Homo sapiens: one gene and its partners. The protein of the gene in region 1 binds, or shares a complex with, the protein of each later gene. Each region holds a gene or a part of one and is shown on either strand. Other genes may lie near its edges.

What was found.
Region 2: TMEM231 (region 1) and MKS1 share a complex: the UniProt entries of both Homo sapiens proteins name them as parts of the tectonic-like complex.
Region 3: TMEM231 (region 1) and CEP290 share a complex: the UniProt entries of both Homo sapiens proteins name them as parts of the tectonic-like complex.
Region 4: TMEM231 (region 1) and TCTN1 share a complex: the UniProt entries of both Homo sapiens proteins name them as parts of the tectonic-like complex.

What each region holds. Positions count from the first base shown.
Region 1 is NC_000016.10:75,545,832-75,554,103, forward strand, and holds part of TMEM231 (transmembrane protein 231), read right to left. Parts: intron 247-8,272; exon of another isoform or gene 124-246; coding exon 1-123. UniProt on the Homo sapiens protein: Transmembrane component of the tectonic-like complex, a complex localized at the transition zone of primary cilia and acting as a barrier that prevents diffusion of transmembrane proteins between the cilia and plasma membranes.
Region 2 is NC_000017.11:58,208,561-58,216,255, forward strand, and holds part of MKS1 (tectonic-like complex member MKS1), read right to left. Parts: intron 7,684-7,695; coding exon 7,528-7,683; intron 6,339-7,527; exon of another isoform or gene 6,279-6,338; coding exon 6,181-6,278; intron 5,828-6,180; coding exon 5,699-5,827; intron 5,310-5,698; coding exon 5,205-5,309; intron 4,531-5,204; coding exon 4,422-4,530; intron 3,875-4,421; coding exon 3,818-3,874; intron 2,463-3,817; coding exon 2,420-2,462; intron 2,165-2,419; coding exon 2,099-2,164; intron 24-2,098; coding exon 1-23. UniProt on the Homo sapiens protein: Component of the tectonic-like complex, a complex localized at the transition zone of primary cilia and acting as a barrier that prevents diffusion of transmembrane proteins between the cilia and plasma membranes.
Region 3 is NC_000012.12:88,139,089-88,147,172, forward strand, and holds the start of CEP290 (centrosomal protein of 290 kDa), read right to left. Parts: upstream 3,001-8,084; 5' UTR 2,812-3,000; intron 2,787-2,811; exon of another isoform or gene 2,645-2,786; intron 2,247-2,644; 5' UTR 2,220-2,246; coding exon 2,118-2,219; intron 1,946-2,117; coding exon 1,868-1,945; intron 477-1,867; coding exon 407-476; intron 104-406; coding exon 57-103; intron 1-56. UniProt on the Homo sapiens protein: Involved in early and late steps in cilia formation. Its association with CCP110 is required for inhibition of primary cilia formation by CCP110.
Region 4 is NC_000012.12:110,616,327-110,624,598, reverse strand, and holds part of TCTN1 (tectonic-1 isoform 1 precursor), read right to left. Parts: coding exon of another isoform or gene 8,247-8,272; intron 7,852-8,246; exon of another isoform or gene 7,695-7,851; intron 4,764-7,694; coding exon 4,643-4,763; intron 1-4,642. UniProt on the Homo sapiens protein: Component of the tectonic-like complex, a complex localized at the transition zone of primary cilia and acting as a barrier that prevents diffusion of transmembrane proteins between the cilia and plasma membranes.

The DNA of each region.
Region 1 (8,272 bases):
TCGATAGGAGAAAGTCAGGATGAGCTGCACACCGAGAACGTGCTCCGTGGACTGCAGGGGAAGCTCCAGCTTAAAATGTAACATGTCCGTCTTCCCATCCTGGTTCCTGTCTTCTTCTCTAGTCTAGGAAACCCAAACAGGCCCAGCAGCCCTGGTCACTAATGAGTCTGGGAGGAATCCACATCACTTCTGTAAATACACAATGACCCACTGTCTTGCTGTACACAACAGGCATTATCTCCTCCACTAAAAGAGAAAAGCAGATAGATGTAAGTGCATTAATACTGGGGAGAGACACAAAGTGCATGGTCCCTGAACTTCATATCTGGGCCTTTCAAATGTTCACTGGCCAAAATAAATGGGCAATAACAAAAAACATCTGGATAGTATTTGTGCCTTTCAGTTGTCTCATGTGATCTTGCTTATTTTGCACTGATATTTTTTTCTTTTTTACAAATATGCCTGAATTTGTATGGAAATTTTAAGTAGCATGTCAGAATAGTCTTCTATGTCTCTAGAAGTCAACTTGTTAAAATAGAAAAACACCTAATCCTAATCATTATGCATTCCTCCAACAAACTCAAACTCAACAGAAAATCACCAAGCTCTATTTTTTTTTGTTTTTTTTTGAGCCGGGGTCTAACTCTATCGCCCAGGCTGGAGTGCAGTGACGCAATCACGGCTCACTACAACCTCCGCCTCCCAGGGTCAAGGAATTGTCCTGCCTCAGCCTCCTGAGGAGCTGGGATTACAAGTGCCCACCACCATGCCCAGCTAATTTTTTTATTTTTAGTAGAGACTGGGTCTCACCATGTTGGCCAGGCTGATCTTGAACTCCTGACCTCGGGTGATCCGCCCACCTCAGGCTCCCAAAGTGCTAGGATTATAGGCGTGAGCCACCGCACCCGGCCTTACCAAACTCTGTTTATAGATTCTGAAACCACGAGTGTCTTTGCTTCAGATTCTTGATGTTGGATCTTATCTCATCATTCGTGTGAGGACCTGAAAGCCTTGTGCATCTTTTAGTAGCAATCAATGAAATGAAAAAGGAAGCTATGTCAAATCAGCAAAGTATTAAAACCATATCTATTTGATAAATTACGGGCATGAAAGGAAAGAAGACAGAGGTCTGTAGAGGAAAAAAGACAAAATACAGCTTATGAAGCATATGTAGGCAGTGAAAAAAAACTGGTATCCACTCCTACCATCCACAGTCTTGCCAAACAGTGATGCTAAAATGATGATCAGGAAAGCACGGTTACTGAAAAGTGATCACTGCTGACATGGTCCCTCTGCACAACTCTGGATCTTTTTGCTACAACTGATCCTTTCCCACTGTGGATTCCCAGAACAATTCTACTATCGTGTAGCAGCATTCCCATCTGGATCCACCATCTATGGATTCATTTTGATTCCCACCATTACTATTACGTAAGGAAGAGATTTTTTGTGTGTGTGCTTTTTCAGGCTAATAATAAGGTCATTTGAAATGAAGAAATCTCAATTTTCAGAAACTTTCAATTATTTCTTTCTTTCTAGACAATAATGTTCCTTCTCTTAGGTCTTGTTTTAGAGAAACCTCCCTCCCTTTTCTCTTGGATACTTCCTCTCTGCCCTGTTTCATCAGCTTCGGGGAGGGATATCTGCTACCAGGGCTGATGATCAAGTTACTGAGGCAATGATGGACTAGTCATTATAGGTAGGATGAAAAGAGCCTGCCTTGCGGATCATGAGGTCAGAAGATCGAGACCATCCTGGCCAACATGGTGAAACCCCGTCTCTACTAAAAATACAAAAATTAGCTGGGAGTGGTGGCACGTGCCTGTAATCCCAGCTACTCAGGAGGCTGAGGCAGGAGAATCGCTTGAACCAGGGAGTTGGAGGTTGCAGTGAGCCAAGATCTTGCCACTGCACTCCAGCCTGGTGACAGAGCGAGACTCCATCTCAAAAAAATAAAATAAAAAATAAATAAAAGAGCCTGCCTTGTCTCCTGTGGATTTTCTTCAATTGGGATCTGGGTAGAAAATCTTATGTAACTCTCTGTGATGGATCCACACCTTCTAGATCTTTAGGGTTGGACAGGAAGAAAAGAGCACATTTCTCAACTTGCAACAGAGGATAGTGGCCAGGAGACAACTGCCAGAAGAATCCAGACTCCAACACACTGTGGGAGGGGGAAAAGCTCATTTCCTTTGATCTTTACAATAAATGTAAAGCCCCAGGCAGGCAGAACAGGTATTTTCCCATTACACAGATGACAAAATCAAGGATGAGTGAGATTAGGGCATTTATCAGAGGTACAGCAAGTAATGGTGAAGACAGGATTTGAGATCAGGTGACTTCAAATCTGGTCCTCTTTTTAGGACCAAAATGTCTAAAATTATTTTAAAAATTCCAAATGAAGACAGCAGGTTGGACAAATCTTCCTGAAAAACAGCAGCACCAGGCATCTACGTCTGTATACTTGCCTGTGCACATCCTTCCATTCCAAGTTCGCGGGGGACAGATTTGGCACAACACCATCAATAGTGTCTACTTGTTAAATTCACTCATTGATCTGTTACGTACTTTTTGGAAACACGCCAGGCACTATTTCAAATAATGAGACTATAATGGTAAACAAAATAGACAAAGTCCCCATCCTAATGGGGCATACATTCCCGATGGACAATGTAGAAAACAGTGACAAGTGCCGCTGACAGAAATGAAGCAGGCTAAAATTAGAGAATAATGAAGGTAAAATTTAACAGAAATTGGCCAGGCGTGGTGGCTTATGCCTATAATCCCAGCACTTTGGGAGGCCCAGGTGGGTGGATTGCTTGGGCTCAGGAGTTCGAGAGCAGCCTGGGCAACATGGCGATACCCTGCCTCTATTAAAAATACAAAAATTAGCTAGGCATGGTGGCGTGCACCTGTAATCCCAGCTACTAGGGAGGCTGAGGCAGGAGAATCGCTTGAACCCAGAAGGTGGAGGTTGCAGTGAGCCGAGATCGTGCCTCTGCACTCCAGCCTGGTGACAGAGCAAGACTCTATCTCAAACAAACAACAAAAAAACCCAAAAAGAATTTAACAGAAATTTTTAAATATTCAGGATGACCCAACTTGTTGGAGTCCTGAAGGAAGTGAAGTGATGGGGTGCAGGAACATCTCAGAGAGGAGGGATCCAGGCTAATCAGGTACATGTGCTCTGGGTACCCGTGGGATCAATGCATCTGGCAGAGTGGGTGAGAAGGAGAGCAGGGTGGAGAGAGGGGGGAGAGAAGTTTCGATGGAAAGGATGTGTCTCCCACAAATGACCTGTCACCAAGCTGGACTCTCACCCTCCTGGGGCTGGCGAAGTTTGGCTGTGCTCCTCTGTTATCACTTGGACCACTGAATAAATCAATTATTTAATTCCATTTAGTTGAAAGTAAGTTTAACATATGTGCAATAGCTAACAAAGGCAGGCATTCAAAGGCTACTACTTCTTTAACACAAATTCTAGGTCGCTATCTAACCTCCAACTGGTACTTAGCCAAGAGAATTCACATATCACACCACCACCTTATATCTACAACGTATATACAGGCTTTGGAACAATTTTTATATCCATTCATTGTCCCACGTGATTCCTCTGCATATCCCAGGAGAGATGTGGGTACTCTCATGCCCTGTATATGGATAGATAAATTGAGGGTGAGGTTATGAAACCCAGTGACAGAATTGGGACTAGGACCTTGTGGGACAAGGATCTTGGTTTGCTGACTCCTGATTCAGGGCTCTTCTATAATAGCTCATAAGAACTCTAACTGAAAAGATTTCTCATGGTTAAAGGAGGATAACCCTTTAGAGATACACATGAAATCCACACGCATGTACTGAGCAGAGTCAGAGGGAATTTTTTTGTTTTTTTTTTGAGACGAAGTCTTACTCTGTTGCCCAGGCTGGAGTGCAGTGGCACAATCGCCACTCACCGCAACCTCCACCTCCCAGGTTCGAGTGATTCTCCTGCCTCAGCTTCCTGACTAGCTGGGATTACAGGTGTGCGCCACTACGCCCAGCTGATTTTTGCATTTTTAGTAGAGATGGGGTTTCACCGTGTTGGCCAGGCTATTCTCAAACTCCTGACCTTGGGTGATCTGCCCGCCTCAGCCTCCCAAAGTGCTGGGATTACAGGCATGAGCCACCGCACCTGGCCAGAGGGAATTTAACATAGGGAATAAATAGTCCCATAGGTATTAGAGGACTGAAGACGTAAAAAGGGGATATCCCAGCAACACAGAGATAGTAGCTGCAGGGAACATTTCCCACACCTAGGACTAGAGAAGAAGGGGAAGCGGGTGGGACTGATAGAACTTAGAGGTTCAGGGAAGAGGCCTCGAAGAGCTGAGCCTCAGACTTCAAGAAGGGACCGCGGCCCAGATGGGGCCAGGACCTCTGAGCTTGGAGGAAGCATGCACTAGAGGGAACCTTGAAGCCGGTAGGAGAGGCGTCCTGCTCCTTCCTGTTTGCTGGTTGTCCCTGTTTGTGGCATCCACAGTGGTTCTTCACCCTGGCAGTGGTGACTGGTTTCATTTCTTTTTTTCTGCACTCCCAGAACAAGGCTCATCATGCCTCCTACTGGCAGAACCTAACAGGAAGCTGCAGGGGAAGAAGGTGGTTTCCAGCATCTCAGCAGGAACCTGGAAGCTGAGCGTAGGAGGGTGGGTTTGGAGCTGAGACAATACCTCATAACCAGCACACCACCTGACTGCAGGAATTGCCAGAAATTCAAGTGCCATTGTTTCCAGAGTATCCTGATGTGTGACTTTTTTCCCCGTCAGGAATTCCCAGCATCTGACGGTTTGTTGGAATTTTGTTTGGTTTCTGTTTTGTTTGCGTACATTTCATTCATTTAAGTCGTATTCTTTTTTTTTTTTTTTTGAGATGCAGTCTGGCTCTGTTGCCCAGGTTGGAGTATGGGTGGTGCAATCTCAGCTCACTGCAATCTCCGCCTCCCGGGTTCAAGCAATTCTCGTGCCTCAGCCTCCCAAACAGCTGGGATTACAGGAACCTGCCATCACACCCGGCTAATTTTTGTGTTTTTAGTAGAGACGGGGTTTCACCATGTTGGCCAGGCTGGTCTAGAACTCCCTACCTCAGGTGATCCATCCGCCTCGGCCTCCCAAAGTGCTGGGATTACAGGCGTGAGCCACTGCGCCCGGCCCATATTCTTTTATTAAAGGTTAATTTCCTAGTTTATACCAGTGTCTATTTCACCATATACTTGTCATCACCGGGTGCTCCTTTCTTTTTAAGCTAAAAATACTCTTTGGCACCAGTTGTGGGTCTCTAGCAAAGCAGAAACTGCCACTTCGTGGTTCCTTTCCACCTTTCTACCTGTATTTCTTTTTTTTTCTATTTCTTTTTTTCTTGATACAGGGTCAAAAAAGGCTAGAGTGCAGTGGCACGATCACAGCTCATTGCAGCCTTGACCTCTCAGGCTCAAGTGATCCTCCCACCTCAGCCTCCTGAGTAGCTGGGACTATAGGCATTCACCACTACCCCTGGCTAATTTTTAAATTTTTTATAGTAGGGCCTCACTATGTTGCCTAGGCGGTCTGGAACTCCTGAGCTCAAGGGGCTAGCCTCCCAAAGTGCTGAGATTATAGGCATGAGCCACAGTGCTCAGCCTTGTATTTCAATCTAAGATACCATTACTTATAAAATGAACCATTATTTTATATACCACTGATAAAAGAAAAACATTTCCAATTAAACTATGACACTTTTCTAATCACTTACTTTTTAAAAAGTTACTAAAAGAGCTTTTAGATTTAGACATATTTACACAGATATGTTTATTTACTTAGAAAAATATAAGCAAAATAGGTCGGGGCAGTGGCTCACGCCTGTAATCCCAGCACTTTGGGAAGCCGAGGTGGGTGGATCACCTGAGGTCAGGAGTTCGAGACCAGCCTGACCAACATGATGAAATCCCGTCTCTACTAAAAATACAAAAATCAGCCGGCCGTGGTGGTGCCTGCCTGTAATCCCAGCTACTCATGAGGCTGAGGCAGGAGAATCGCTTGAACCCAGGAGGCGGAGGTTGCAGTGAGAAGAGATTGCGCCACTGCACTCCAGCCTGGGCAACAGAGTGAGACTTCATCTCAAAAAAAAAAAAGAAAAGAAAAGAAAGAAAAATATAGGCAAAATAAATTGATTCAGGGATTCCTAAAACTTCTTTACATCCTCATCCTTTTGAGTAACACTTTAACTCAGTCAACAACCCATACTTTTCTATGCAACTTTGTCCTTTGTGCCATCAAACATGTTGGTGATACAGCATTAAAAGAAAAACAAAAACAAAAAACAAAAATTCAGCTGGGCATGGTGGCTCATGCCTATAGTCCCAGCACTTTGGGAGGCCGAGGCAGGCAGATCACTTGAGCTCAGGAGTTCGAGACCAGCCTGGCCAACATGGTAAAACCTCATCTATACTAAAAATACAAAAATGAGCCAGGCGTAGTGGCAGGAGCCTGTAATCCAGCTCCTTCGGAGGCTGAGGCAGGAGAATCTCTTGAACCTGGGGGGCGGAGGCTGCAGTGAGCCAAGATTGCGCCACTGAACTCCAGTCTGGGTGACAGAGTGAGACCCTGTCTCAAAACAAACAAACAAACAAACAAACAATTCATAAAAGAAACTAAAAGCCATTGGTCTGGGCCCTTAAGCAGACTTTGAAATTATGGAGAGCTTTCCTGTTTTTAAAAGCCTCTCAAACTTTCCCTTACTTGCTCTCCATTCAATTCAGGGGTTAAAAAAATGTTCTACTACTGTCTCTGGGGTTTCCTCTGAGGTTGCTGATGCCCCTTCTTTTTAATTGCATTTTTATTTTTCTAACACCTACCTCTTACACAGAAATGATGCCCCTTCTGCATGTTTTGATGCCGGCACAGGTGTAAGCAATGAGAACTATGCCATACCTGCCTCCTTGCCAACAGTTGATAACCACAGACAGGAAGACACTGATTTCAGGGATGAGAAGAAACAGGTGTCTTAGAAACACGGTACTCTCCACTCATCCTCTGGAATCCTTCTATAACCTTCAGTCCCTGTATTCTCTGGGTCCACACATGCCTTCAAGAGCTATGTCAGCCTCCTTGAGGCTTGAGGGGGAAAAAGTCACTCTGCTTTTCTCTTCTCTCATTAAAAACAACAAAAACTAGACTTCCAAAGCATTAAACATGTAGGGAGCTTAGAGACGCTGTCCAGGATGAGCTGACCAAAGCAGAAGCAAGGCTGTTTGTGACTTCAGCATTTCCCCCAATTAGCCACTGCAAAGCCACCTCCCAGCACTTGGTCCAACCTTAATCAACAACCACTGTTTCCTTTGCCTTCTGGACAGTTTCCTGGATAGACTGACGTCAGTCTGGCTCTATGTTCAAAGTTAGAAAATAAAAGTAGTTTGTTGCAATAAGGGCTAAGATTTTAAGATATAGCATAAGAAATACTGAGTTCCAGTCCAGACTCTGTTCACTTCAAAGCAGTGGCTCACACCTGTAATCACACCTGTAATCCCAGCTCTTTGAAAGGCTGAGGTGAGTGTATTACCAGAGTTGAGGAGTTCTAGACCAGCCTGGCCAACATGGTGAAACCCTGTTTCCACTAAAAAACACAAAAAAGTTAGCCCGGAGTGGTGGTGCATGCCTGCAGTCCCAGCTACTTGGAAGGCTGAGGCGAGAGGATTGCTTGAACCCAGAAGGCAGAGGTTGCAGTGAGCTGAGATTGTGCCACTGCATTCCAGCCTGGCTGACAGAGTGAAACTCTGTTGCAAAAAAAAAAAAAAAAAAGAAAAGAAGAAAAGCTAGGGCAAATTGTACCACTTCTCTATTTCTTTTTAATTTTTTATTTTTTTGAAATGTGGGGTCTTGCTATGTTGCCCACACTGGCCTTGAACTCCTGGGCTCAAGCAATCCTCCTGCCTCAGCCTTCCAAAGTGCTAGGATTACAGGTGTGAGCTATCATTTCTGGCGGCAAATATTTTTATCTCATTTACCTGATCATTTAGAAATGTATCTCCAGGTCTTGAGATAACATTTGCATTGAAAATTCTCAGTTTCTCAGTTTTAGGCATTCTCTATTGAGTTCCCACAAGGAAAGATGATTTAGCTTCTTCTCTCCCCCAATTCCTCCCACCATCCCCTATCACATACCCAATACCTTTCTCATTACCCCCAATAGAGTTAAAATCTCTTTTTAGTAAACATTCAGTGTTCATATAATTAAGACTATGTCAATCCTATTCACAACTCTG
Region 2 (7,695 bases), on another chromosome or scaffold:
CTGGAATGCTGGGCTTGACCAGTCTGAAAGCCAAAGACCAAATATAGTAAGCTCGCCTGGGAGGAAAGCAAGTCATTCAGAAAAAGACAGTTTCTTTTTTCTTTTCTTTTTTTTTTTTGTATTTATTGATCATTCTTGGGTGTTTCTCGGAGAGGGGGATGTGGCAGGGTCATAGGATAATAGTGGAGAGAAGGTCAGCAGATAAACACGTGAACAAAGGTCTCTGGTTCTCCTAGGCAGAGGTCCCTGCGGCCTTCCACAGTGTTTGTGTCCCTGGGTACTTGAGATTAGGGAGTGGTGATGACTCTTAAGGAGCATGCTGCCTTCAAGCACCTGTTTAACAAAGCACATCTTGCACCGCCCTTAATCCATTTAACCTTGAGTTGACACAGCACATGTTTCAGAGAGCACGGGGTTGGGGGTAAGGTTATAGATTAACAGCATCCCAAGGCAGAAGAATTTTTCTTAGTACAGAACAAAATGGAGTCTCCTATGTCTACTTCTTTCTACACAGACACAGTAACAATCTGATCTCTCTTTCTTTTCCCCACATTTCCCCCTTTTCTTTTTGACAAAACCGCCATCGTCATCATGGCCCATTCTCAATGGTCGCTGTCTCTTCGGAGCTGTTGGGTACACCTCCCAGATGGGGCGGCCGGGCAGAGGCGCTCCTCACTTCCCAGACGGGGCGGACAGTTTCTTTATTCATTTATTCACACAATCAATCATTCATTTACCATTTACTGAGTGCCTGCTATGTGCTAGTATATCTTAGGGGTATCTTGGTAACTAGATAGAAAAGATCCCCATCTCTCATGGAGCTGACATTCTGGGGGAAGCAGGGAGACAGACAAAAACCAAACCAACAAGAGACTATTGGGTAGTGATGAGTGCTATACTAAAAACAAAACGGGGAAGGGACTGAGTGATTGGGAGGCTCATTTAGACTGGGTGGTAAGAGAAGGCCTCTCAGAGGCGACACAGGCTGAGACCTAAACTCAGAAAGAACCAGCCATGCTAAGATATGGCAGAAAGGGTTTCAGACAAAGGAAACGGCCCTTAAAAGGCTACAAGGTGGGAATGAACCTGGCTGGGAAGAATGACTGGAAGGTTGTATGGAAGAGATAGGCAGGGGCCAGCTCATTCAGGGTATCAAGTTTACATTTTACTCTAAGTGGGAGGGGAAGCTGTTGGGGTTTTCAGCTCAAAAGGGACATAACTTGTTTACATTTTTTAAAGCTCAACTTGGCTTTGGTGTCTGTGGCAAATCAACGGCAAATGGGAGCAAGGCAGGAAGCAGGGGGATACATCAGAAGTTGAATGCACTGGCCTAGACAAGAGATGGTGGTGGCTTGGTGTAGGGTGCTGGAGAGAACAAATAGGTTCACAACAGCTTTTGAAGACAGAACGGACAGGAACTGTTGACAGATTGGCTGGCTATAGGGAGCTAGGGAAAGTGAGGGATCAAGGATGTTCCCTAGGTTTTTGGCATCAACAACTCAGTAGATGACACTGCCATTCTGTTAGGATGGGGAAGACCAGGGAGGAGAGGTTTGAGGGAAGAGGAGGAATCAAGAGTTCTTTTTGGTCATGTTAGACAGAAATGACAAAAGAGGTAACTGGATATGAGTCTGGAGTCCAGGGAAAAGGTTAAGGCTAGAGGCAGAAACCTGGGAGTCTGAGACGTATTGATGGTATTTAAGCCATAGGATGGATGACGTTGCCCAGGAAGACTGCAGACAGAGAGTAACAGAAGGCCTTGGCTTAGCTGTGGGTACTCTCACGGTTTAAGATCAACAGAAGGGAAGGCATCACCCAAGAAGGATGAGGGGCCACCAGCGAGATAGGAGAGAGAAGTGTGGAGCCAGAAGCCAGAGAAGTGTGTCATGCAGCACAGTGGGCTCTGGAAAATGCTTCAGGAAGGTCAAGCGAGGTGAAAGCAGGGAAGTCTCCACTGGGTTTGGTAAAGTGGATGTGATCTATGACCTTGAAAAGAACAGTAACAGTTTCAGCAGAGGAGTGGGAAAGGAAGCCTGACCAAATGCCTCTAGATCTGTCTGAATGGGTATAAAAGGAGAGACTTAAGAATATTACTTACGAGCAGTTGGCAATTCTACAAAGAAGTGGACGTAGAGATTGTCATACTCATAGCCTTGGGCTGAAACTACGAGAGAAAACAGGAAGCTATTTTAGCTTTTTCTCCTACCACCCTTAGCACCCAACCCAATCCTGAGGGGCCTACACACCCTGAGAGCAAGTCTTTTGAGGGCCAGGAACCCTCTGCGTTTCCAGGAAAGACTCACCACTGAGTTTCCCAAGTACAGCAGACAAGGCCTCTACCAGAGTGGAGGAGACTATTCACAGCTCCATCTAGGCACGTGCCTAAGCATCAAGAGATCTATGCTAGCAAGACACTTACCGACCTCTCCATTTACAAAGAGCCGGAGGGCACCTGGGACAGTCTAAGGTGAAGAGAAGTGGGAAAGGATCAGCAGGCCTGGAGGGAATTGGCACTTCTCCTCCAGCCCCATCTACAAATCTGCAGACGACCTGCCACTAGGGGTCAGGCCCTGGGTGTCACTACTGCACTTTCTCCCCACCCTGACACTTCTCCACAGATCTGTTTCCTTCATTCCTAAGATTCACAATGTAGGGGGAAAGTACATAATTTAAATGGCAGTGAGGACAATGCACTATGGGAAATTATTCAAGCAACAGCAACTGTCCTGTGGTGTGCAATGGGAAGCCAGAACGCCCTCTTCCCTTTAGATGGCTGAGGTCAAGAAACCAGGGAGTTTTCTTTTTTAATTATTTGTGCATGTCTTATCTAACTTTTAAATACTGAATATCTGTTGCTTATGCAATATGGAAATAGTGAAGGTTAATTTTTCAGAGAAAGAGAGGGAGACCAGGAAGTAATTCTATCCTTGTTTCCAGGTCTAGAGATAGAACTCTTAGAATGAGAAAAGACAAAGAACAGCACAACAGAATAGCTGAACTAAACCACTTTCTTTTTTTTTCAGACAGGGTCTTGATCTGTTGTCCAGGCTGGAATGCAGTGGTGTGATCATAGCTCAATGCAAACTCAAACTTCTAGGCTCAAGCAATCCTGCTGCCTCAGCATCATGAGTAGCTGGGACTACAGGTATGTATCACCATGCCTTGCTAATTTTTTTTTTTTTTTTTGTAGGGATGTGGTCTCACTATGTTGCCCAGGCTGCTCTCAAACTCCTGGCTTCAAGTGATCCTCCCACCTTGGCCTCACAAAGTGCTGGGATTATAGTCATGCGCCACCGCATCAGGCCTATATTTTTTAAGAGCCAAAATATGTGACAAACAGAAATGGCACCCCTGCCTCTCTATGGGGTATTTTGAAAAAATATCCACATGAAAGGTGAAGAAGACATTTTTCATCCTTATATTTATTTTTTAAATTAATTATAAAGTAATACCTAAATACATTACAACTGATAAAAATTCAAAGCTACCTAAGTTTAGGGAATAAAAAGCAAAAATCCCTAATATATCCCTCTCACCACCCACTACCCTTCTACCACATCTAATCCCACCCTCCCCAGAGAAAGCCACCCACAGCATGTGCATAGCCTTTCAGACCTTTTTCTTAGCATTAACAGTTCTCTATCAACATGCAATGTTGCAAAACACATAACAAGGACTATATGTGCTATTCTTTGACTTCCTTTTCACACTGTAGAGTATACCTTTGGGCCTTTAAGAGAGGTAGTGTAACTCATCCACAGTCAGAATGCTCCGGCTAAACACAGCTCACAGTGCTGCAGGAAGCCAAGCTACTCACCATCTCAAAGTCGGTGCCTACGAGGCTGCTGAGATACTCCTTGTGCCGGCCATAAAGCTGAGGAAACAAACCAAACCAAAACTCAAGATGCAACCCAAGCTAGACCAAAGTTCAGTTCTGAATGGGAAGAAGAAAAGCAATAGTGGGAAGGGTCAGCAAGAGCTGGAGGCGTAAGCACCTGACTCACCGCCATTTTACCGTGAAGCAGAGGCCCTGGAGTCAGCTGGTCTGGGGCAGAATCCTGACTCTCGCCCTTACAAGCTATGCCACCTTGGGCAGACTACTTAGCTCCTCAATCTCGGTTTCCCCACTTATAAGGTGGTAATAAGTGTTCACCTCAAAGGGTTGTTGTAAAGACTAAAGGAAATAAGGTATGTAAAGTACCTAGCACAGAACATGGTAAATGCTCAAATAAATGGTTATTGTTATTATTATAATATGATCAAAAACTTCTGTCTGATATGTCAGCAATGCTGCCTAAGTCAGAAGGGGCCATGAAGGGCAAGGCTTTTCCCGAGCAACTGCTGACATCAAGTTCAGAAATGGTCTCAGCTCCAGGCACTGAGGCTCATCCCTTGGATACTTGGAATGAACTTGCGCTTACATCCTTGAACACTCGCCGTTCCCGCTCCTCCTCCTCCGGCTGTGCGTGGGGGGAAACATTGTCGATCGTATATTTCCACAGCTCCTGCTTCTCCCCCTCCGTCTCAATCCTGTAAGGTCAAAACCACAGAAAGGAGCAACTCTAATAATGAGAGATGGGCCCTGGGATAGCTCCCAGCCCAGGGATGAGCGATCAGGGGCCATACACCTCACTAAAGTATATGATGATAAAAGTGGCTGTATTGACGACCAGGAGAGAGAAACAAAAGGGTAAAGCAGAGAGGGCACCAGACTAGACTCAGAAAGTATAGGTTCTGGGCCCATTTCTGGCTTGAAGTTACAGTCAAACTGTAAGGCACAACATTCCTGCCACCCAGTTCTCTCACCTGAAAAATGGACAGGTTGGGCCAGATAATTTCTAATTTACATTTCTGTCATTTCCAAGATACAGAGATGAGGAACAGTCAGCCCACAGGAAAAGCCTGGCTGAGTTCACCCCACTCTGTTCTGGTCAGGTCCTACATTCAGCAGCACAGAGAATCACTGTCATTTAACTGTACCACTGAAGTGATCCCTTTCAAATTGGTGCAGTTGCACATTTTCTGAGAAAGGAGTCCCTGGTTTTCTAAGGCCCTATGACTTGGAACAGAATACGAACCATTGCCTGGGAATGTAAAAGTTAGAACAGATGAAGGACTTTCTGACAGTCTAGTTGACTAGGGACAAAAAGTGCAACCAAGGGAAGGAATGCCAGTCTCCACTACCCCTTTCTTCCTCTCCTCACCTGTAGGGTCCTTTGAGGCCCGTGAAGTCAGGCTTTACTGTGATCACACCATTGCTATCCACCTTCAGAGTACACAGGACATGTTCATACTTCTTATAGCCAAGCCTAGAAATCAGGAAAACACCAAGGTTGAGGTCAATGGTCCTTCAGGGAAACAAGAAGAGATACTGAGCCCACTGCAGGGGAGAGAACAGAGGCTATAGGGAGAGCTGTCATGGTAAAACTTTCTTCCAAGTACAACTAAGAAAAAAAAGGAAGAAAAAGTCCCTTCCTCTCCTATAACCCAGGATGATAACAGGAAGGGGATAGCTGGTGAGAGGAGAAGAAGATGAGGATCTGAGTTGGCAGTGAGAAGCTTCACTCATAACTAAGAAGAGAAGGAAGAAAAAGTCCCTCCCTCCCCTATAACCTAGGATGATAATAACAGGAAGGGGAGAGCTGGTGAGAGGAGAAAAGGATGAGGCTCTAAGCTGGCAGTGAGAAGCGCCACTCACTTTTTATAGGGCCCCAGGTCTGCCATGATGTGCATTGTCTGAAGAGGGGTGTTAATGACGTGGTTGTTCCTGACAAACTCTTCTGAGGGCTCCCAGGTGACGATGCGTGACTTGAGGATGCCGCCCTCCCTGGGAGACACCACAGAAAGGTCACTTCCCTGGCACACCCCAATGGAGCACCCCAGTGGAGAGCCACTTCAGAATGGGAAGTTTGAGCTAGTGGACATACTGTTTTGTTTTGTTTTTTAAGAGCCAAAATATTTGACAAACAGAAATGACATCCCTTCCCTCTCTCTGAGGCACTTTGGAAAAATGTCCACATGAAGAGTGAGGAAGATATTTTATATTTTTATATTTATTTTTTAAATTAATTACAAAGTAATACTTGAATACTATATATAACCACTGATAAAAATGCAAAACTACCCAACTTTAGGAAATAAAAAGTAAAAGCTTGTCCCCCATCCCATGCCCGCACTCACATCCCTCGCCTGTCCTGCCGGCGACGCCTGACATTTGCCATTCGCTCGACCAAGAATGAAGGCACCTCGCTGGCTGCAGTGGTCATTCTCTGACAGTGCTGGGAAAAGCAAGCAGCCCTGTGTACGCCATCTGGTCAGGGCCACATGGAGCCAAGTACCTGAAGGGAAGTCTTCCTCCTGAAACCTCATCCAGGACCTGAACCCCACAGGTTCCGCCACCTCACAATTATACATGCTAACGGAGGGAGCAGTAGCCAAACAACCCAAAGAAGATTTCTACCACATCATGGTTTGCCTTTGGATTTTAAAAAGGAGTTATTTATGTTAATATTAAAATCAGTCTGCATTCTCTGAGCACAAACCAACAAAAAGTTGGGTTAGTGTGCTTGGTAGATGTTGAAGTTAACAAGGTGGTTAGAAAATGCCAAATGGGATACAAGCATTTTGTGGGAAATCCTCACATGGTAACTGAGCACTAACTGCATTTTCATTTGCTTTTCCAAAACAGACAACCCAAATTTTATTTAATTTATATATTTTTTTAAGAGACAGGGTCTCACCCAGGCTGCAGTGCAGTGGTGCTATCATAGCTCACTGCAACCTTGAACTCCTTGGCTCAAGTGATCCTCCCGCCTCAGCTTCCCACGTAGCCGGGACTACAGGTACATGCCACCATGCCCAGCTAATGTTATCAATCCACAGCTCTAATAATGAAAGCACGTCAATCTTTCAAAAACATTTATTGAATACCTGTTCCTTGCAGAGACCTACAGAGTCATAGACAAAAATAAAAAAAATAGGCTCTACCCTCGAGGAGCTTAAAATCTTACTGAGAAGACAGAAGCAACTGAAATGCAGTGACTGAAGAAAATGTAAAACAAGGTCACAAGGGTATTTTTGTCATAGGCAAATTGAGGACATAAGCCATTTTCCATAGCTATACTGAATTCCTCTTCAAACCCATATACTCAGAGTTTGGGCTGAATCCCCTGATGAATTTTATCTATATTGTTCCAGACTCCACTACCTGTCTTTTTTCATGATGCATGGAGGAAGTCAAGCCCAGTGGTTACTTCTCCCAGTATGCACTCTGCAAGCATATAATCAGAGATACTGGCAGCTCCCCCAGGCCCTCTAGCAGGCAGAGAAGGGAGCAGCAGCCTCACCACCTGTAGACTGTGCCCATTCTATTCCAGGCTGGCTGCCAGCAGCAGCAGCTCACAGCAGTTCCTAGACAGGCTACTTGTCTCCCCTTACTAGGCTCTGACATAACACACAGAACTCAGTGAGGCAAAAAAGCTAGAGGAAGCAAAGATGGAAGCTATGAGACCCTAGAAAGAACAATACCTCCTCCAAATTGGTGTATCTATCAGAGTCAGTGTAGGTAAAGATTCGTCGGTTTTTCTTGCCACCCGAATTCTCCAGCTTCAGGATCTCCTGACGGTACTGATAATCCAAAGGACTCTGACAGGCTGTTTCATTTTGGTACAGATCTACTTCAAACTGAGGTTACCA
Region 3 (8,084 bases), on another chromosome or scaffold:
ACAATTCAAAATAAAATTAATGACAATTACATCCTAGGGAATACAAAAAGACATACCTCCAGTTCATTTTCCAGTTTCATTACTTTAGTTTTTAATTGATTTTCTATTTTTTTAAAAAAAAAGAAAAACGTTTTAATTGATTAGTTACCACAAAACAAACTTTTAAATAAATTTCAATAACAAAATTAATTCTTTTAAAAGAGTCCATCATGATTATAAGGTAACAAAAAGTATTATATGGCAGATCCATAAAATAGGAGTCTAGAAATATTTATTATTAAATGTTATATATTAAAAATAAACTGAATATATATATTTTATAGAATATAATTTAATTTTCTACAGTTTAATGAACAAATGGAATTCATTATTTAATACCATAATAAACTTTTTCCAAGGTGCTTACCAAATTTTGCTTGTTCTTCTCCAGCTTTTTCTACTTCTTCCAAAGCCAGCTCCACTTCTTGAGCTTTCATCTAAACATTAAAAAAAGGTTATTTCAATATGCCTTTATACTGGAATGTAAGCACTGAAAATAAAAATTCTGTTTTATTTGTTATGATCCTTAGTGCCAGCAATGGCTGGCACATGGAGACGTTCAGTAAATATTTGCTGAATAAATAGTTTTTGGTTTTTGTTTTTGTTTTTTTTGCTTTTGAGATAGGGCCTCACTTTGTCACCCAGGCTGGAGTGCAGTGGCACAATCTCAGCTCACTGCAACCTCCTGCCTCCTGGGCTCAAGCAATCTTCCCATCTCAGTCTCCTGAGTAGCTGGGACTACAGGTGCATGCCATCATGCTTGGCGTGCCATCATGCTTGGTGTGCCATCATGCTCGGCAAATTTTTTCGTACAGGCAAGGACTCACTATATTATCCAGGCTAGTCTTGAACTCCCAGGCTCAAGCAATCCTCCTGCCTTGGCCTCCCAAAGTGCTGGGATTACAGACGTGAGCCACCATGCCAGGCAATTTTCTTACTTAAGACTACAATTTCTAGATTTTTAATAGCATGAAACATTTTTGATTCTCCTTTTTACCTCAAGTCCTCAAGTCTTATATCCAGTAATGCAACATCTCCCTTTGTAATGTCTTTCCACTACTTTTTTTCTGTTCCAATTGCTATTATTCTAATCCATAATTTCAGGTTTAAACTCCGCTATAATGTGATGTCTACAAAGCTCCAATTTCCTTCAGTTTGTCCTACATAATATACTCAGTTTTGCCTTCTTAAGGTGTATTTTTGTACCTATCAATTGTGTTTCGAAAACCTTTACTGCCTTCTCAATTGCTGATAGCATAAAATACACCTTTAAGGCCCTCAACAACCTATCTCAAAGTACTTACCCAAGATTTGTTTTCTCTACAGTCTGCTACAAACTTGCTGCACCTTGTTTCCTCAAATATAAAGAATAAACATATTTCCTGTTCTCAGTATTTATTTATGGTAACCAACAGCTCTAGAATTCCCTTACTATCTTACCACTGCATTGCCTTCCACTTATCTAACACTACTCCTCAGTATTGATCCTTTGTGAAGTCTTCTGACATCTCTTAAATCATTTCCCCTCTTAACAAATCCCTATAGCAGTCATTGTCTGCATTTGTCATTTGGACCTCAAGATATATTTCCTTATGTTACTTTTCAACATACTCATTCTATTTCCCCTACACACCCTTTTAGAAACTTTAAGTAGAAACTAGCAATGTTTTATACACTAAAATACTTAATTCACATTTAAATATATTGCATTTTTTAGTGGTGATGTAGATATTACCAGGTATTTTCACAAAGATTACCTTATATAAGAACAGATTTTTATAGTTCCACTAATAGCCAAACCTATAGTTAAAACCTACTACATACAAACCTTCATTAGTGACTGAGTAATTCTGAAAAGGTGTATCACATTTTCTTGCTTTTCACTTTTTAGCTCATTTACTTCCACCTAAGTAAACAGAAAAGCAACTGTTTTATATTTTATAACCTTCAAGCAAAATATAAGAACACTTCCAGATTGTGACAATTATAGTTGTCCCTGAAAAAAATAAATTCATATTTTATTAATAAATTAATCATAAGTTAATGTATATATCTATTATTATTGACCAATTAAGCACCTTGGATAAGGAAATCAATAAATTATCTGCCAGTTCTTCTTGACGGGGCAGGTCATCTGGGTCAACTTTCATTATTTCTTTCCAGTTTATATTAGGTGGCATCTTGAATTCTTTCACTGTGCTCCACCTCTGTAACAAAACAGGTGTATATTAGCATTTTCAAGGTACACAGTATTATTGGTTTTCTAGCACCTTACATTTTTTGCAGATTATTTCATTATAACTTTCTGATGTTAGCAAAACAGACAATTGGGCCACAAAATAGACAAGTGGGCAAAATAGCCTTGATCAAAAATAGCAGTCGGCACAAACTGTCAGAGTGTCCCGGCTAAATAAAATGTGACGGCTTCCTTGCTAACACTAATCTAAGTTAATACTTAAGATTTCTGGATCCCTTCCTCCACACCCCTACCCACAATGCGCGCGAACACCCTAATCCTGGCAAGCGCGAGGGTCTGTGGAAGGCCGACAATCATCCCTGATTTGGAGAAACAGAATTGGGGCTGAAAAAAAACGCAGAAATTAACATTTGGAATGAGTGAAGTTGTGCGGCGGAAACTGGAACCGAAGCAAGGCAGTATTAGGGACCCGAGGCTGGAAGGGCGGGGTAGCTATGCTGTGGCACACGGGCCCTCAGGCTAAAGAACCTGAGCGTGGAGTGACTCGCTAATCCTGCTTACAAGGATCCACCCACCTAGACCAAGCCTGGCAACCAGCGGAGGCCTCTCACTACCGCAACCACCAAGCTGGACCCGGCCGCGGGCCCTGACAGATCCCTATCGCGGTTCCACGCGGACTCTGGGTCCAGCCAAATGGTCCCGAGCAAGCCAAAGCGGCAGCGGCTGCTAGGCGACACCATCCCCAACTCCGCCAAGGCCAGAATAAGATCCCGGATGCCAGGAGAGCCTACAGTTCACGACCGTGGGTGATGCTTTACGTTTAGATTCTCCGCCGGAGTCCCAGAGCTCGGTGTTCAGGATGATGAGAAGGCGTGGAACGAGGACTTCAAATCCCAGAGTGCAGTTCTGCCTGAGGCTTCTGCATGCTGGGAACTGAAGTCCCTGAGAAGAGGAGGTAAGGCGCTCCCGGCATGCAACGCGTAAGACTGCGACGGTACCGGGGCGGCGGGGAAGGACCGAGAGGCGGGAGGAGCAGCGGCTCAGGCGCCTGCAAACTGGTGGCCTGAACGAGGTAGACCATGACTGTGGTTTCAGTGGCGTCACTCGCTGGGCTGCTCTTCCTGAGGTTTTCCTAAGCCATCCCCTGGCGGAACCGCCCCCAGGTGAGGTCGAGCTGTCGGTCAGCATATTGGGAGGAATTGAGGGGAGCAGTCCTGGGTTAGAGAAGCTTCTGCTATTGGGGCCGTAGGGCCTGGTCCCATTCTGAAAAAGTGGGAACACCCTGCCTTCTCTTCAGGCGTTTGCAAGCGGCGTCCAGGGTAGTGCCTTCTGTAAGAAGGAAAAAACAAAAAGTTTTAGCCTTGTTTAGTATCAGAATCTGTCTTGATAGTTAGAGTGAGAGCCGCGCAGCCGTGATCCTCGTTTGGGGGCGAGCGAAGAATTGACAAGAGGTCTCGGCATCCCGACCCCGCCCGCCTTACCTGTAGCACCATTCCTTTCGCGGATCGTGGGGCTTGATGGTTGTGGAGCTAGTATAAAGTCAAGGCTCTAGAGAGGAGAGGTTAGTACTTGTCCGGACCACTGCCGGGGGTGGAGAGAGAAGGGATCCAAGGACTCACCTGTACTATTGTTGCCACTTGCTTGGTTACCTAGGGTGCCCTTCCATGAAAGCGCCTTCTCTGGTGTTTACCACTCTTACTCGTGCAAGTTTTGCTCATCCTGCTCGTCTGCTCACAATCATGCTGGAGTATGATACATCTCTACCTAACTTTCCTAAGAAGCTGTAGACTTAAATCTAAATGACATTTCCAACTATCTGGACCAGTGCTTTGTCTTTTTTTTTTTTTAAACGCTGCTTTAAAAAAAAAATTACTGTACTTGACAGTAAATTTTCCTTTCGAAAATAAGTAATGAGTTTCTTTTTAAACCCCCAATTTGGGTAAAATAAGTAGCTCAGTACAAAATAAAAAGATACTGATTTTGTGAGATGAATTTTAAAGACATTAGTTAGATTTATAGGAATGACAATTTTACTACTTTTCTGAAAGATTATATGCCAAATACTATTCATTATCTTGTTTATTCTTCCTTACAATCCAGTGAAATAGGTGCTTACATTGTCCTCATTTTCCATCTGAGTTAAGAAACTGAGGCTTGGAGAAGCTAAGTAACTTAAATAGTGTGATTGAACACAGATCTCTCTGGCTGGAGGACATATTCTTAACTTCTATACACCTCCTCAGACATTCTGGGAAACCAATATTTGTGAAGTGCTTGTTCCTCAATCTTGCTATTTTTATTAAATGTTATATTTTAATTTTGTAAGTGTTTACTCAATAATTTGAATTAAACATTCTTCATGTTCAGTGTTCTTAATTCATAATTTAACATGGGATGGTGTTTCTGGAAAGGTGTTCTGATCTGGACCCCAGGAGAGGGCTCCTGGATCTCGCCAAGAAAGAATTGGAGGTGCATACACCCCCATTGGAGGTGGTAGACTAAGGATTGTTATAGTTATTTCTTGATTATATGCTAAACAAGGGGTGGGTTATTCATGAGTTTTCTGGGAAGAGGGTAGGCCATTCCTAGATCTGAGTGTTCCTCCCCTTTTTAGACTATATAGAGTAACTTCTTCACATTGCCATGGCATCTGTAAACTGTCATAGCACTGGTGGGAGTGTCTTTTAGGATGCTAATGCATTATAATTAGTGTATAATGAGCAGTGAGAACGAGCAGACGTCCCACCTTTCTCGCCATCTTGGATTTGGTGGGATTTGGCTGGCTTCTTTACTGCATGCTGTTTTATCAGCAAAGTCTTTATGATCAGTATCTTGTGCCCACCTCCTATCTCATCCTGTGACTTAGAATGACTGACAGACATCCTGAGAATGCAGCCCAGTAGGTCTCACCCTTATTTTACCCAGCCCCTATTCAAGATGGAGTTGTTGTGATTCAAATACCTCTGACAATGGTAGGAATGAAATTTAATAGTTACTGAGCACATGTTATGTCATACACTATGCTGACTACTGCGTGTTTGTTTTCATAATAGAAGTCTGTTTTCTCTAACACCTTTTCTTCTGTTTTTTTTTTCATTCGTTATAACTTATTTTTATGTATTCACTTACAAGTTTCGTTTGTCTGTATTACTCTTTTCTACCCTTCTGCCACCACCCTCTTGCTCACATTCATAAACTCAAGGTGCCTGGTCTCTAATGGTAAATTTTATTCTAATTTTTCAGAAGTGAGAACAAGTTCATAGAAGTTAAGTAATAATTGATGAAGCTAAGATTGTAACCTAGATCTCAGTGACAATTGTAACTAAAAGCAAAATCTTACCTAAATTTTATTCTTTAACTCATTCTAACAGTATTTTTTATCCTGTTTCCTGTGCTAGGCACTGGGGATACAGCAGTGAACAAGTCAGCTCTGGCTTGAACAAGTCAACTAAGTTTTTATGCATTGTCGTCTGTACCTAAGTGTGAGTCAGGAAATTTAACTCAGGTTCTAGTTCAATAACTCACTGTATATTTTTGAGGAAAATTGGCAAAACTATTATTTTTCGTCAGATTTTCTGCACCTGTCAGTTTTCATCAAGAAATGGGACTTATGTGACAATGTTGTAAGTGGCCTTGTTATAAGAACACTTGTCTGGACCTGCCTTCTTTCTGCCCTAGGCTTTTGTGAACAGTTTTATCTGACCAAAATCACTTCACAAGAAGGCCTCACCTTTTATTATTGCTTACCTTTGTTCTCTGTAGCAATGAATTTATATTCCTTGGATGTTACTTCTAGTTCCTTTTTGCTGACTTACCAAGAAAAGTCATAGTAGCTTACTTCTCCGATCTCTAAAACAAAGCATGGCCATTTTGTATCCATTGTGTGTCCTAAACATTTTGTTTTGCCTTATCTTCATGGCAAATTAAGCCATGGTTAATGGCTTAATTCACACTGACTCCCTACTGATCTTTCCAGTTTCCTCATGTTGAAGGAAGACAAGTATCTGCTTGCTGCACACTCATTCTTGTCCATGAAATTAAGGCAAAACAATTTGCCTTAATACAATTTACAGTTTTATTGAAGGGATTGTATTTAGTTTTGTATATCTATAATGTAGCTCATGAGAAGTCTTTGTGAACCAAAAAGTGTCTAAGACGGGTCTCAATCAATTTAGAAGTTTATTTTGCCAAGGTTAGGGACATGCCGAAAAGAAATAAACACTGAATCACAGAAACAGTCTGTAGTCTCTTCCTTTCTCTAAGATGATTTTGAGGGCTTCAGTATTTAAAGGGGAAAAATCCATTGGAAGAGAAAAAGGGTAGATATGGTAATCTATGTGTTGCAAGAGAAAAAGAGCAGAGAGGGAAATAGATATTATGTATTCACGTGGGGTGGTAAATCAGCACTTTACGTGAGATAAGATGAATGTCCTAAAGTAGCTACCTGTGGAGATATTTAACATTTGATGTGTAGCTGTCTGCTAAGAACAAAAGGAGAGCAGTTTCTTGCATGACTCAGCTTTCACCCTAATTTTTTCTTATAGACATAATGAATTGAGATCCCAAGTTTTATTTTCCTTTCACATTTCCAATTGCACTTGGATTTTGTGCACATATATAGTAACACCCCATTTTTGTAAGCAAACAGAAATCAGTCATCCCATCCACTTAAACTGCATCTGTAAGTCTGCTTCTGTGCCTAGGAAAAATTAGAAGTTCTCACAACTAACAAGAATAGTGTGTTACATGTTTGCAATAATGGCCCCCAGTGAGTCAGGTCCCCGTCTGCCTATGCCTTTGTGTAAATCTGTCCCTTCCCTGCAACCTCTACTTTGCAGGTGGCTCTTGGAAGTAACCTAAGATGACTCCACAACTGAGCTCGTAACATGCTCTCTCTCCCTTTCTCTCATACTATGCTCCCTTGGGGAATCTTAAAAATTCTGTTATCTTGGCCCTTTTATAACTTCTTCCCCATTGATTCAGGATGTACCTTGCTTGAATAATAATTTTTAAAATACGCACTAAATAGAGCCTTATAAAGAGCTTGTGCATTGAACCTTGCCCTCCTGTTGTCCTGAGATCATCATTTAAGAAGCCTAAGATAACCTATTAGAGGATGTGTTAATAAGTAGCAGAGACTAGTTTTCAAAGCTGAGAAATCTACCCTTTAAAAGCCATCCAGCCCTAATCAAGCCACTGGATAACTATAAGCACATGAGTGACCCCAGGCACAACTAACAGAAGAACCATATACATACCTATATATTTGTGTGTGTGTGTGTGTGTGTATATATATATATACATATATATGTATATATATGTAAAATAAAGATATATTGAAGAATTGAATTATTTTGAATGTATTCATTTTTAAGTACTTCAGATGCCTAACTTAACAAAGAAAACTTTCTCAGTACTTAAATAACTGATTAAATTTAGGAAATAAAACTTGAAACTATAGCAAATCCCAAGTTCTTATAAAAATTCCAATACTATTTGTGTATTTAGCTAATTATTATACTTTTCAACTATAGTTGTGAATCCAGAAACTACATAGTCAGTAGTTTAATATGTTTATTATGTTTAATATGTTTATTATACGTATTATTGTATATTTTAAAATTATAGTTATGCAGCTAATATATCAAAGTCTCCAGGATGTCAGATTCTCTTAAAGGTTGCAGTTACTCTAAAAAATCAGATGCATAATTTAATATTGTTTATTATGCATATTATTGTATATTTTTATATATTTTTAAATTATTTAATTTATTTTAAATTATTTAATTTAACAATAATTTAACAGCTAATGTATCAAGTCTCCAGGATGTTAGATTCTCTTAAACAT
Region 4 (8,272 bases), on another chromosome or scaffold:
AAAAAAAAAAAAAAAGAAGTTATGAGTTAAGTCTTCAACCAATCCCAGATTTGACAAATCCCAATCAATTTGCTATAGATACAGATACAGGCCAAGCACCATGGCTCATGCCTGTAATCCCAGCATTTTGGGAGGCTGAGGAGGATCACTTGAGGCCAGGAGTTCAAGACCAGCCTGGGCAACACAGACCCCTATCTCTACAAAAAACAAAGAAAAAATTAGTCCGGCATGCTGGCAGATGCCTGTAGTACTAACTACTTGGGAGGCTGAGGTAGGAGGACTGCTTGAGCCCAGGAGCAAGGTTACAGTGAGCTATGATCGTGTCACTGCACTCCAGCCTGGGTGACAGAGCAAGACCTATCTCAAAAAAACATAGAGGCTGGGCACAGTGGCTCACGCCTACAATGCCAGTACTTTGGGAGGCCATGGCAGGAGGATCACTTGAAGCCAGGATTTCAAGACCAGCCTGGGCCACAAAGTGAGATTTTGTCTCTAAAAAAAAAAAAAAATAGACAGATAGCTGGACAGACAGATAATAGTATAGAGATAGTCATAATAAAAATGGGACCATATTCTACATACTGTTTTAAGGCTTTTCTCACTTAATATATAATGCCTAATATGCACTTACAATATTATAAGTGGCTTCATCATCGTATACCAGCCTATTAATACCCCAATTTGTTTAACCAATATAGATATGGATATGGTACAGCCCAAGCACCGTGGCTCATGCCTGTAATCCCAGCATTTTGGGAGGCTGGGGAGGATCACTTGAGGCCAGGAGTTCAAGACCAGCCTGGGCAACACAGACCCCGATCTCTACAGAAAACAAAGAAAAAATTAGCCCGGCATGCTGGCAGATGCTTATAGTTCTAACTACTTGGGAGGCTGAGGTAGGAGGACTGCTTGAGCCCAGGAGCAAGGTTACAGCGAGCTATGATCGTTGGTTTAGGTTTAGGTTTCTAATTTTCCCCAATTATATGTAATGCTATAATGACAACCTTATACATACATCTTTATGACTGTCTCCAGTTGTTTCCTTAGGATATGTTTCCTGAACTGGAACTGCTAAACCAAAAGGCAGGTAACATTATTTAAAGCTTCTGAGACACACTCCCAGATTGCCCTCTAGAAGGGCACAATATACATTCTCACCAACACTGTAGTAAGAGTGCCTATTTCCCTGTACCCTTGCCAAGACTGGATATTATCATTCCGTTTTTACTGGGCCTTAAAGGATAAGTAGAAATCAGACAGACAGTAGGAATGGGAAGCAAATCCAAGTGCAAGAACGGCAATGGCCAAGGCTGGGTAACGACTCATGGTCTTTGGGAAACTCTGAGTACCAAGGTTGGGCTGGAGTGGATTTGAGATGGCTGGTAGCAGGTGATAGGCTCTGAAAGAAGGTGGGAATGAATCTGAATCCAGGCTAAGAAGCCTATAGATAATGAGAACTTCTGAAGGTCTTTTAGTGAGTGCTTGACAGGATGAGGTGTGAGCTCATAAAGCAGGAGCAGGGATGGACGACCACGAGGGCTAGAGTGATGGAAGGCTCCACAGAATGGGATTCCTTACTCCCCTCCAGTCAGCCACCTCCCCAATCCTGTGCAGTATTTCAGTATCATCATCAGATCTAGATACTTCTCCCTAGCCCCACTGTCACAGCTTTTGGGGAGGATGGGGAGGGAAACCGTTAATCCGCATCTGCAATAGCTTTTTACTTGGTTCTCTGCCACCAGGCTTGGCCTTGTGATCCACTGCATATGATGCTGCAGAATTACATAAGATGGGAATCTGATCCTCTTACAACCCAGGCCCTGTGGACTTCAGGACAGAGTCCAAACCCCTTAGCATATACACAAGGCCCCTGGGGACCTGACCCCTGATCTCTTTCCTACACTCCTCTCACCCCACCCCTCTTCTGGCCACACTGAGTTACCTGCAGTTAAGCAGGCCATCCCACATCCCCCCATCTCTGTCCACGCAGTTCCCTCTGCCTGGAATGCCCTTCCCCTCAGTCCATGCTGACCATCTTCCACGTGTCCTTCAGGACCCAGCTCAGCTCCTGTTTTCTGGGGAGCATTCCTTAGTGGGGCTGAGTTAGATGCCATTCCTCTGCCTTCTCATCGTGCTTGATGTAGAAACTGCCATCCACTCCTCTGTCTCCCTTACTCGACGGTAAGCTCTTTGAAGGCAGGAGAGTGCCTAACTCATCTTTATGTCCCTGGTGCTGGCATTCAGGAGGTACTCAAGAAAGGTTGGGAGAAAGGAAAGACTGCTGAGACAGGAAAAGGAAAGGAAGAGGCAAGGGTCAGGGGAGCCTCCAGGTTTTTGGCCTGGTGTCGGCCTAAAAGACTAATGGTAGAGGAAGTCAACAAGGGACACTAGGAAATCAGTTAGAGGTGGAAGGGAGAAATTCATTCATCCATTCAACTCATTATTATTATTATTATTTTTTTTTATGGAGTTTCGCTCTTGTTGCCCGGGCTAGAGTGCAATGGTGCGATCTTGGCTCCTGCAACCTCTGCCTCCCAGGTTCAAGCGATTCTCCCACCTCAGCCCCCTGAGTAGCTGGGATTACAGGCACCCACCACCACGCCCAGCTGATTTTTGTATTTTTAGTAGACACGGGGTTTCACTATCTTGGCCAGGCTGGTCTCAAACTCCTGACCTCAAGTGATCTACATGCCTCAGCCTCCCAAAGTGCTGGGATTACAGGCGTGAGACACCATGCCCAGCCAATTCAACTCATTCTTAACGAGGGCCCACTATGTGGCAGGAGCTCTACTAGGTACTAATGGTTAAGGAGAAAAGAGATCTTCCAGGTTAGGCGCAGTGGCTCACGCCTGTAATCCCAGCACTTTGGGAGGCCGAGGTGGGCGGATCACGAGGTCAGAAGTTCAAGACCAGCCTGGCTAACACGGTGAAACCCTGTCTCTACTAAAAATACAAAAAATTAGCTGGGCATGGTGGCACACGCCTGTAGTCCCAGCTCGTTGGGAGGCTGAGGCAGGAAAATTGCTTGAAGCCAGCAGGCAGAGGTTGCAGTGAGCCGAGATGGAGGCACTGCACTCCAGCCTGGGCAACAGAGCAAGACTCTGTCTCAAAAAAAAAAAAAATAGCCCCAAGTTGGAGCAAAAATGTCACTTTCAGGCTCCTGTATTTACTAAAGGGAGGAAAACAGAATGACTTTCAACAAATACTGAAACATGCTACAGGCCAGGTAGCCAGAAAATTAATCTGACTACATTGCCCTGTTCTCTGAGCATTTTTACAATACTAGAAATAGGCTCAAAATCCCATTGGTCAATAAAATAGTTTCTCACAGGAAAAACCCATTGTACTTCTTAAAAGGGTTCACCTATCAAGTATCAATTGCTAAAACTTGCTATAAGGCTAAATTTAAATTAGCTATCTCTGAATACTAAGTTGGTCCCATCCTGAATTAATGAGCCTCTTCTAAGTGCTCCTAGTTTTTCAAAAAGCCTTGAAGCTGGGCGCGTTGGCTTACACCTGAAATCCCGGCACTTTGGGAGGCCAAGGAGGGCGGATCACCTGAGGTCAGGAGTTCGAGAGCAGCCTGACCAATATGGTGAAACCCCACCTCTACTAAAAATACGCCAGGCATCGTGGCGTGCACCTGTAGTCCCAGCTACTCAGGAGGCTGAGACAGGAGAATTGCTTGAAGCCAGGAGGCGGTGGTTGCAGTGAGCCACTATCACACCACTGCACTCCAGCCTGGGCAACAGAGCGAGACTCCATCTCATAAAAAAAAAAAAAAAAAAGAAGCCTTGAAACCTCAATTATAAGAGATCATTCAGAACAGATTATTTATTTACCTTATAATCAGCTGGAAATGTCATTTTTCATTGTTCTATACAATGCGAACTGTGAGAATTCCTGGTAGATTTACATATCAGAAAAGTACAGATTTCTTATCTAATTTTTTGTTACAAATACTATGTCCACAACAAAAGCTGTGAAATTAAAATGCACTTTTCACCCTAGGCTATACTAATTCACTGATACAAAAAATGTGACCACTGTCTACAACTCAAATTGAAATGTAATTCAATCTTCAAACACAGAGGTTTCATTACATTATTTTAATGTATATTCTCTCTTCTCTTTTGCCTGCACAGTCACCTGGCTGAATGCAAATAAGGGATAGCTACTTTTTTTTTTTTTGAGACTGAGTCTCGCTCTGTCACCCAGGCTAGAGTGCAGTAGCGCAATCTCCACTCACTGCAAGCTCTGCCTCCCGGGTTCACGCCATTCTCCTGCCTCAGCCTCCCGAGTAGCTGGGACCACAGGTGCCCGCCAACATGCCCGGCTAATTTTTTTGGATTTTTAGTAGAGACGGGGTTTCACCGTGTTAGCCAGAATGGTCCCAATCTCCTGACCTCGTGATCCACCCACCTCAGCCTCCCAAAGTGCTGGGATTACAGGCGTGAGCCACTGCGCCCTGCCAGGGATAGCTACTTTTTTACATATTTGTTTGGACGGTATGGCTTCAGAACGACGTAAAACACTGGAAATCAGGTTTGGGTTTTTAAGCCTGGGAAAGTTTTCCCTTTCTCCAAATTGTATTATCCTGGTCAAATTTTTTCAAAATTGCATGTGTCATACGTAAACTTACGTGACAACTGGAACTGAGCAGGCAGAAAAGACACTGAAATCCACGGAGCTGCAGTCGGGATCACAGCAGCAGTTGATGTCACACTGTGCTGGGGATAAGTCACAGACACAGAGAACAGCAACTGCAGAAAAAAGAGGGGTAGGATCCAGAACATCACCATCAGCAGGTGGTGACTGCCCCCTGCCACCACAGTGTACCATAAGTCAATTTCATAAAAAAGATCCATTTTATTTTTCCTATTGCACTTTGGGGGAAATTTGTGAAGTGGAAATGAGTCAGTTTGAGCATCCCACAATCAGAGGTTTCCCCAAAGTGGCTAATGATCTGACTCGCTTGGAAAGTTCTGTTAGTGCTTTGCCTACAGAGATGCTGATTTCGTAAGCTGAATATGAAACCCAGGCATTTGCAGTTTTCAGAAACTTTCCAGGTGATGCTTATAATTAGACAAGTTTAAGAACAAGCACCCCTAAACCATTTGCCTGACCATAAGAACCACCAGTTTAAAACTCCAAAGTCCTTAAGCCCCTCCTCTAGAGATTACGATTCAGAGGAAGGGCCCACTTAAACCTTCAGGAAAGAGACTTTTCAATCTTGCCCCCTCTTCACGTATAACCTGCTGCTTTAAAGCTGAACTCATATTCACAGACCCTTGGCCAAGAATCATACCGGCTCAGGTGCTCAGAATGTCTTTGGTGATTTAGACAATAAGGTATGAGGGCGGGGTAGGAATCTCCCCCACCTCACAACTTTTAATTATTTTATTTATTTATTTATTTTTTAAAGGAGTTTCGGCTCTTGTTGCCCAGGCTGGAGTGCAATGGTGCAATCTTGGCTCACTGCAACCTCCACCTCCTGGGTTCAAGCTATTCTCCTGCCTCAGCCTCCTGAGTAGCTGGGATTAAAGGCATGCACTACCACGCCCAACTTTTTTTTTTTTTTTGTATTTTTATTAGGGACGGGGTTTCACCATGTTGGCCAGGCTGGTCTCAAACTCCTGACCTCAAGTGATCTGCCAGCCTTAGCCACCCAAAGTGCTGGGATTACAGGTGTGAGCCACCACTCCTGGTCAACTTTTAATCATTAATAAGGATGATTTTTCTTTGCCGCTTTGCAACAAAGATGATTATCTGGATTTTTAATTCTCTATCTTATTCTGTCAAATAAGGACAAGAAAACCCTTTTAAAAAATAGAGAATGAATTTATAGTTGCAATTATTGCTGGAAGGGAAGAAGTAAGATCAACCTTCAATCTTATCTGTAACGTTTTCTTTTTCAAAAGAAGATTTCAAACCAGGCACGGTGGCTCACATCTGTAATTCCTGCACTTTGGGAGGCGGGCAGATCACTTGAGGTCAGGAGTTTGAGACTGCCCTGGCCAACATGGTTAAACCCTGTCTCTATTAAAAATACAAAAATTAGGCTGGGCGCGGTGGTTCATGCCTGTAATCCCAGCACTTTGGGAGGCCAAGGCAGGCGGATCACAAGGTCAGGAGATTGAGACCATCCTGGCTAACACGGTGAAACCCCGTCTCTACTAACAATATAAAAACTAGCTGGGTGTGGTGGCGGGCACCTGTAGTCCCAGCTACTGGGGAGGCTGAGGCGGGAGAATGGCGTGAACCCAGGAGGCGGGGTTTGCAGTGAGCCGAGATCGCGTCACTGCATTCCAGCCTGGGCGACAGAGCGAGACTCCATCTCAAAAAAAAAATTCAAAAATTAGCCAGGTATGGTGGTGGGCGCCTGTAATCCCAGCTACTCAGGGAGGCTGAGGCAGGAGAATCGTTTCAACCCAGAAGGCAGAGGTTGCAGTAAACTGAGATCACACCACTGCACTCCAGCCTGGATGACAGAGTGAGACTCCATCTCAAAAAAAAAAAAAAAAAGATCTCAAGCCAAAAAACAAAATTAACAAAAAAGGAATCTGAAGCAAATGCTGCTAGTGTCCACCCAACATTCTTATTTGTACGTATGAATTATTTCACGATAAAAAGGAGCTTTAGAAAAATGTACCCCACAGCGGCCGGATGCAGTGGCTCAAGCCTGTAATCCCAGCACTTTGGGAGGCTGAGGCAGGTGGATCACGAGGTCAGGAGGTCCAGACCAGCCTGGCCGACATGGTAAAACCCCGTCTCTACTGAAAATACAAAAATTAGTCGGGCATGGTGGCACACACCCGTAGTCCCAGCTACTCAGGAGGCTGAGGCAGAAGAATAGCCTGAACCCAGGAGGCAGAGTTTGCAGTGAGCCGATATCGTGCCACTGCACTCCAGCCTGGGTGACAGGGCAAGATTCCATCTCAAAAAAAAAAAAAGAAAGAAAAAGAGAAAAGAAAAATGTATCCCATAGCTCACGCCTGTATCCTAGCACTCTGGAAGGCTGAGAAGAGTGGATCCCCTGAGGTTAGGAGTTTGAGACCAGCCTGGCCAACGTGGTAAAACCCCATCTCTACTAAAAATACCAAAAAAATTAGCCAGGCATGGTGGCGCGCGGCTGTAATCCCAGCTACTTGGGAGGCTGAGGCAGGAGAATCGCTTGAACCTGGGAGGTGGAGGTTGCAGTGAGCTGAGACTGCGCCACTGCATTCCAGCCTGGGCAATTAAAAAAAAAAAAATAGTACCCCGTAAAAGGTATAATGCACTCTGCAAAAAAAATGTGTGAGGTGAAGGGGAAGGTTTTGTTAATATGCCATGATTTCTTAGTCTAAGACACAAAAGCTTTCCCCCTAAAGTTTACAGTGCTTCTCTCTAGTTGAGAACTCTTCTATGTGCCTAGTAAAATGACACAACTTATGCACGCTAATGTAAAAAATTAAAAGTGCTTTAGGTTCCCTGTATGTTTAAAATTACTATCTTGCTTTGTTTTCAAAACTTAAAGCCCTTATAGGCAGCTGTAAGACTACTAAGGACGAAGCAATAGTGTTTAATAACTCCACTTAGGAAAAAGGTTTCTACCCAGGATGCGAGTGTACTTAATCATCCACCAAGTAGCTGTTGAGCCCCTGTCAGGTCTAAGCAGCACTCAGCTGCCCTTGCCTCCTATCGCATCTGCACACCTGGCTTGTAGAGCAGGGTACTAATGAACAGAGCCCAGATTCAAGATGAAGGGTTATCACTCTTCTCCACCAACACTGCCTGAAGCCACCTGCAATTTTCCATCCAGTTCTCCACTCACAGTCAGCCTCCTGCTCCGATATCTACAAGTTGCGTGTCCTAAAATTAGGCAAATAATTTATCCACCTGAAAAATGGGGATAACAGTACCCTCATCATGGGGTTGTTGTAAGGATTAAATGAGATACATCATAGGTGAAATGCTTAGCACAGTGCCTGCCACACAGTGAACAGTTAACAAATGAGTTATTACTGTCACAAGTCTAAAGAGAGGTCCTTTAAAAAGGTGAAGACAGGTGACTGGCAGAGTGCAGTGGCTCAAGCCTGTAATCCTAACACTATGGGAGGCCTAGGTGGGCAATCACTTGAGGCCAGGAGTTCAAGACCAGCCTGGGCAACATGGTGAAACCCCGTCCCTACAAAAAATTAGCCGGGCGTGGTGGCATGCAGCACCTGTAGTTCCAGCTACCCGGGAGTCTGAGGTGGGAAGATCACCTGAGCCTAGGAGGTCGAGGCTGCAG